Linked DNA regions of Homo sapiens. The protein of the gene in region 1 purifies or fractionates together with the protein of each later gene. This does not show direct contact. Each region holds a gene or a part of one and is shown on either strand. Other genes may lie near its edges. The genes, in order: AMD1 and FARSB.

Evidence for each region.
Region 2: the proteins of AMD1 (region 1) and FARSB purify together in Homo sapiens (affinity purification with mass spectrometry; one large-scale study listed by BioGRID and IntAct). This does not show direct contact.

Annotation. Positions count from the first base shown.
Region 1 is NC_000006.12:110,888,233-110,892,057, forward strand, and holds part of AMD1 (S-adenosylmethionine decarboxylase proenzyme), read left to right. Parts: intron 1-103; exon of another isoform or gene 104-174; intron 175-624; coding exon 625-751; intron 752-2,021; coding exon 2,022-2,124; intron 2,125-3,825.
Region 2 is NC_000002.12:222,642,515-222,646,339, forward strand, and holds part of FARSB (phenylalanine--tRNA ligase beta subunit), read right to left. Parts: exon of another isoform or gene 3,108-3,825; intron 2,408-3,107; exon of another isoform or gene 2,371-2,407; intron 492-2,370; coding exon 337-491; intron 1-336.

The DNA.
Region 1 (3,825 bases):
AATTTATTCCATAAATACTTTTAATGCTTATAGTATATATTGTGATGGGCCTTGCTGGGGGATACTGGACTAAACAGCCCCTCCCCCCCTTTTTTTTTCTGAGGCGGAGTCTCAGTCTGTCCAGGCTGGAGTGCATTGGCGCAATCTCCTCTCACTGCAACCTCTGCCGCCCAGGTTCAAGCGATTTTCTTGCCTCAGCCTCCCAAGTAGCTGGTATTACAGGCGCCTGCCACTGTGCCCGGCTAATTTTTGTATTTTTAGTAGAGACGGGGTTTCATCATCTTGGCCAGGCTGGTCTTGAACTCCTGACGTGGTGATCCACCTCGGCCGCCTAAAGTGCTGGGATTACAGGTGTGAGCCACTGTGCCTGGCCTCTCTCTTTTTTTTTTTTAAACTAAGTTTATATTATGAATATACGAATGTTTATCAAAATGCTTACCATGTGCCAAGCCCTGGGGATGTTTTGTATACTAGAAAAGGAAAAGAATAATGTGTTACTTGCTTCCTTGAGATCCTAATATTTAAAAGTACTAGCCAAAATTGTAAATGATAATTAAATTGGTTGATTGCACCCTCAGTAGTACATTAGTATTGTTATAATATTGTGACTTTTTTCAACTGCAGTGAGAGTAGCATGTTTGTCTCCAAGAGACGTTTCATTTTGAAGACATGTGGTACCACCCTCTTGCTGAAAGCACTGGTTCCCCTGTTGAAGCTTGCTAGGGATTACAGTGGGTTTGACTCAATTCAAGTAAGTAAGCAAACATTTAAATATTTTTCAGGCATAAATGTTAGCGTTCTTATCCTGTAATATGCGAAGTAAATAAATTTATATACTTACTGCCTTTGTTACAATGCATGCAAACACGTGGTAAGGTGTTCATACCTTAGGAAGAGATCTGATTCTCAAGAACAGCAGAAAATAGGAAGCAGAGAATGAGTTAGGATGAAATTCAAATGGGAGAAAGAAATGAAGAAGCCAGACACTTCCAGTAGTTAATTTCTTAACATGGCTACTTATAATAATAGAGAAATGGTAAGAAAAGAAGGAAAAGCAAGAAAAATGTCGTTACTGAAATTGTCCAGTCTTTATAATGAAGAGTTAGGATGAAGAGCAACAGTCAGTATTGAGTTAAATTCTTATACTTTTCAAGAACTAAGGTGTTTTTACCTAGGGTATAATTTTCTGATTAGCAGTTGTTACATTTTATTTATTTTTTATTTTTTTGAGATGGAGTTTCGCTCTTGTTTCCCAGGCTGGAATGCAATAGCACGATCTCAGCTCACTGCAATCTGCACCTCCCAGGTTCAAGTGATTCTCCTGCCTCAGCCTCCCAAGTAGCTGGGATCACAGGTGCCCACCACCATGCCTGGCTAATTTTTTTTGTATTTTTAGTAGAGACGGTGTTTCACCATGTTGGCCAGGCTGGTCTCTTAACTCCTGACCTCAGGTGTTCCACCCACCTCAGTCTCCTAAAGTGCTGGGATTGCAGGCGTGAGCCACTGCACCCGGCCTGAATTTTAATCTTTAACTTCATAAGGAAAGGATGGATTGTCATTAGTACTCAATACAGTTTTTGTTGTTATGAATTGATCCTTGTAAGAAATCTAAAGCAATGTGTGCTTAACCGATGCTTAAAACTAATATGTTATTCCCCCCAAATTTTTGCTTATATGACTATTAATAAGCTCAGTTTAGAAACTACTGTTCTAGAAAGGAATATACTTGGTGTTAATAGTTGTTATGACCCATCATCACTAGACTGGGCTTTTTAAAAAAAAGAGAGAGAGAGAGAGATGGGGCCTCAGTATGTTGCCCAGGCTGGACTCCTGGGCCAAGTGATCCTCCTGCCTCCTAATAGCGAGACTACAGGCATATGCTACCATGCCAAGCTAAAATATTTGAGTTTTGATTTTGCCGAGTTTTTGATATGTGGACAATAGTTGATTAGCTTCGAAAAGTGATAGAATTCTACATCTAAAGTCATCTTTTTTTTTCTTTCTTTTCTTTTTTAATAAAGAGCTTCTTTTATTCTCGTAAGAATTTCATGAAGCCTTCTCACCAAGGGTACCCACACCGGAATTTCCAGGAAGAAATAGAGTTTCTTAATGCAATTTTCCCAAGTAAGTTTAAATAAAATATAAACCTGTTGTCTTCTTAAAGATAGAAAGTGCAACCTCAGAGATCTTTCTATATGAGAGCATACTTATGCATATATAGCATTCTACACACACTAATACTTGCTTTTCTTGTGGGTTTTTTGGTTTGTTTTAGACAGGGGTCTCATTCTGTCACCCATGCTGGTGCAGTGGTGTGATCACAGCTCACTGCAGCCTCAACATCCCAGGCTTAAGTGATCCTCCCACCTTAGCCTCCCAAGTAGCTGGGGCTACAGATGTTTGCCACCCCACCTGGCTAATTTTTTTTTAATTTTTAGTAAAGACAAGGTTTTGCCATATTGCCCAGGCCGGTCTTGAACGCCTGGGCTCAAGGGATCCACCTGCCTTGGCCTCCCAAAGTGCTAGGATTACAAGTGTGAGTTACTGCACCTGGTCCATATTTACTTTGACTTAGATGTTTTGGGAGTACAGTAGTGATCTTTATATAGCTTGTAATTCAAAATATGCAGAATTTATAAAGAACATTAAAATATCAGATAAAATATTTTTAGTTAAGATTAATAGCTTATTGCAAATTATGTATACACATGTAAAAATAATTGTGTATCATAAATCAGTGCTGTTTAAATGATGGAATTTTAAAATGTAGAATTGATCACCTGCCACCTCTGATTTTTCATACAGCATAGAGAGAGTTCATCTTCATCTGGCCATTCACTCTACTTTATGTCTCACTCAGTGGTTCTTTTTGCGTTTTTGTTTGAGACAAGTTTCACTTTGTCTCCCAGGCTGGAGAGCAGTGGCATCATTATAGCTCACTGCATTGTCAAACTCTTGAGTTCAAGCACCCAGCTAATTTTTATTTTATTTTTAGTAGAGATGGAATCTTGCTGTGTTGCCCAGGCTGGTCTTGAACTCCTGCCCTCTAGCAGTCCTCCAGCCTCAGTGGTTCTTAACATACAGATCATAATGTCCTTTGACAATATGAAGAAGGATATGATTCCCTTCAGAAAAATGCCTAGTGCTCTGCTCCAGCATTTTATATAATAATTGACCTGGCTTTTTAAAATTGCACAGTGTAAATTAGTGTTTCTTGAATGAAATTCGTAAGGGTTTCTTTCATCCATTTACTAAGCTTTTATTTATAGAGGTCAGGGAACAAAGGTTATCTGATAACATCCTTACTTCCTAGATAAGGCTGAAAACCTAAGATAATTTAGTAACTTTGCACAAAGTCGCTCATAAGCATGAAAATTGAACTTAGCACATCTACTAATATGAAACCAAACCAGGCTAATCAGAGTGTTGGGTATTTACTGCAAATACCCGCCAAGTCAGTCGATCCTGCTTATCTGGGAATTTACCTACTGTTTCCATTCCTTTCACTGATGACATTTCTTTTTTCTTGAGATGGCGTCTCGCTTTGTCACCCAGGCTGGAGTGGAGTGGCGTGATCTTGGCTCACTGCAACCTCCGCCTCCCGGGTTCAAGCAGTTCTCCTGCCTCAGCCTCCCAAGTAGCTGGGATTATAGGCATGTGCCAACACGCCCAGCTACTTTTTGTATTTTTAGTAGCGATGGGGTTTCATCATGTTGGCCAGGCTCGAACTCTTGACCTCAAGCCCACCTCTGCCTCCCTGCCAAAAGGGGTGGGATTATAGACATGAGCTACTATGCCCAGTCCACTGATGGATGACATTTCTAA
Region 2 (3,825 bases), on another chromosome or scaffold:
CTTTTAACACATCCAGTGAACTACTCATTCCAATTAGATCACGGAGGGGAATCACACACACCTGCTAAATAATTTTTTAAGACGCCATAAAAGCATTAAACACCAGTTTTAAAATATGTTCTCAAAGATGAATGGCTATGACTAAAATTTTCATGGAAATTTTCAAATGGCTACAATCTGCATGAATCTAATTCCTCAAATCAACCCTCTATTGAGAGCTAAAGCTACGTTCCTCTACAAGCTTTTTCCTAGAAATTTAAACATGGCTGCTGATAATGACAAGGAAAGAAAAGAAAACCCAACTTAGCAAAGTCTTTAAGGAACATATTTCCTTACCTTTCTTTGAAGACCTGAAGTCCTCGAACCAATCCTTCCAGACACAGGAGATCATATCTATTGGCAGGGACGTCAATTTTGTAAAGAACAACATCAGAGGCTCCTGCTGCCTTTACATTACCTTGTTCTTTACTTATTATTTCCTTCTCAGATGTCTAAAACAAGCCAAAAAGTAATGATAAAAATTAAATAATTTAAACTCTCTTTAAAAAGTAAAAGTTGTCAGCCCTATAAGGCAGTAACTACATTATACATATTTTCTATAACAAGAACATGGGATTATTATATCCACGACAAAAACAACATGAAAATATTAAGTGTTATAATCATAGCAGACAGAAAAATACTTCAGCTTTAACTGAGTTCAGATATCTGGCAACCTCAATCACCCCAGAAAAGCACAAATCCATCTAAACAAGGGTCAGCAAGCAATAGCCCCCTGGCCAAATCATACCTGATACTTGTTTTTGTAAATAAAGATTTATTGGAACACAGACAGACCCATTCATTTACATATTATCTACTGCTACTTACACACTGCAATAGCTGAGTTGTAACAGAGACTATAGAGCCAAAAAGCCTAAATATTTACTATCTGGCCCTTTACAGAAAAAGTTTTCCCATCTCAAGCTAAAAGAAAATTAAAACATCACCAAGAACATAAAGTAACAACAACAAAAGTGTCAAAGGGGTAAAAGAAAGATGATTCACTAAATAAAAGAAACACAACTTCTTATAGGATGACTCTAAAACCTAAATCCTGTGGGCACCCAAGTCCACATGAGAATGAGAGGGGTAGTATAAAAACTAAAAACAGTCAGAGACCATCAGACACTGGTAAAAATTAGAAGGGATAATAGGTACAATGGGAAGCAAACTAGTGATAGCAAAGGGATAGTGCAGCAGAATGAAGGCAGCCAAGAGGGAGATGACAGAAGAAACACCACTAGAATCACGTTTAATGCAGTGGCAAAGAGTTTAGAATATCTCAAGCACCACACTACAGCAGAGTAACAGATTTTCTTAAACATAACCACTGCAGAGAAGTTACACTCTATTCCTTATGTTTACTACAGCAGGGAACTGTAAATATATTTAAGAAATTTTCACTTGAAATGATTACAAGTTGTATTCCAACTGTTAATGTTACGCTTTAATTATGTGGAAACTCCACTTAACCAGAATTCCTACTATTTCCACCACCAACAACCTGCTAAAATAACTGATGGATTTCTATCAAAATATGTAATGATTTTTGTTTTACATGATGCCCTCCCACTGCCACAATATAAGTAGTTCAAATTTTTGTCCAAATTAAGAATTATATCCACATTTGCACAATATGCAGAGAAATTCACTTCTGGCCACGAGTATTATGTGCCAAAGTCCCACCTGAGGAACCACAGGAGTCTATGCAATGCTGGGGCTGTACAAGGTGGTGCTGGGCTCCAAAAAACCTCTACCTTGGGCATCTCAAACTTAGGAGGCAAATTTTTATAATTAGGGAAAATGAAAAATGAAAAACAAGAGAATGAAGAGGAGGAGGAAGGAGTAAAAAGGGGGAAAAGAAAAGAAGGGGAATGGGGAGAGGCAAAAAGAGAAGAGGAAGAATTCGAGTTTAAACAATGTTCAATCAAAGGGGTTAATAAAATTACTGTTTCAATAGTGAAGAAAGCTGAGTCACCTCCCAGGAGATGGCAGATCTCAGGAGGGACCTATATACAGAGAAGATAATATAATAACCGGAGAAATGAAGGCATCTGCATTCATTTTTCAGCAGCACCCCCTTATCCACAGGGGATATGTTTCAAGCTCCCCAGTGGATGCCTGAAACATTGGATAGGACTAAATGTTACATATACCATGTTTCTTCCTATACATACATACCTATGAAAAAGTTTAATTTATAAATTAGGCACAGTAAGAGATTAACAACTAATAATAAAATAGAACAATTAAAATAATATACTATAATAAGAGTAATGTGAATGTAGTCTCTTTCTGTCTCAGAATTTCTTATTGTACTATACTCACCTATTTTCAAACCACAGTTTGCTGCAGGTAACCAAAACTGTGGAGGCAAAAAACTGTGGATAAGGAGGAACTACTGTAAAAAAAGATCTAATTCCTTTGCAAAAAAAAAAAAAGACACAGAAGCTTACATCTTCTTTCAGTTTCAGCATCTCAGCTCATACAATGACCATATGTAAAGACTGAATTTGTCAGTGCTACCTGACAATAATCTTACAGAAATTTAAAATCACATAAATTTCAGAGTCAAAAAAGAAAACCATAAAGATCATATAATCCAAACCCCTTATTTCACAAATGAAAAGGAGGCCCAGAGAGACTCGTCTGGACTATAGAGTTCAGACAGGCAAAGTAATTGTCCATAGTTACACAGCTAGTAAATGTTAGAACTAGAACTCAAATAATCTAACATCCAGTCCAACACTCTTAGATATCACATAATTTCAAACATAATTCTGAGGTGTAGTAAAATTACGAATAGCAACTTATAAACTACAGAAATCTCAGCCAATTTCTCAAGTATACAAATAGATTAGTACAAAGATGATCTTTCTGTAACATTAGTAAGGCAGCAGGAAAAATAAGGTAAGATAATGTACAATTTTTTAGCCTGAACATTTTTTAACTTTACACCTAAGGTAGTGTTATAAAAGCACTGAATAGGTGAAGATAGAAGGCTTAGGAAAAAAATAATACTAACTATCAGAAAATTATCTTTTAAATTAAAGTATGTCTTTTTTTTTTTTTGAGAAAAAAATTGGGCTTTTATTGGCAATTACAAAAGTAATAGATTTTCTTACATAATACGTTCCTTCAGTAATATATTTTTCAAGTATTTTACCATAGAATTTCTAAAGTACTTTGTCATTGACCCCATAATTTATTATAAAGTAGGTCCCATAATCACATTTTTTGGAAGTTGCTGAAATTGAGATAAAAAATATTGTTTTTTTATGAGAAAAACTGGACAAAATACAGAATGGCCAAAACTAGATTAACTGGCTCAGTTATGTCTACTAGGTGAAAGAAAATACAGAATCTGTTACTGTAGAAATTTTAAGAGGTTTTGAGTCAGTTCCAGTATAAAAATAAGGCCAAAGTTCTCCTGTAAAATCATCATTAAAAGTACAGAGAAGAGATCTATCATTCAAATTATAAAAGGAAACCTCATTCATTTCACAGTCTAAAAAAATGCCAATCTTACTAGGTGTTACTTTTGGCAGCAGAATAATTTCCTTATGGCCCAATACAATATAATTATTCCGACTAGATTACCAAATTCTCCATAATCCATCCTGTACTAAAATTGGTTGACTCTTCCTCCTTGTGGGAGGAGAGTCACTACAGACACCAAGAATCCATTCAGGCATGTCTTTAACTTCTACTTCCCGGTACTGCCTGCCACAATTTTATCCCTTAGAACCCAGAACAGCTGGGAGCAGATAAAATCTTCTTGGG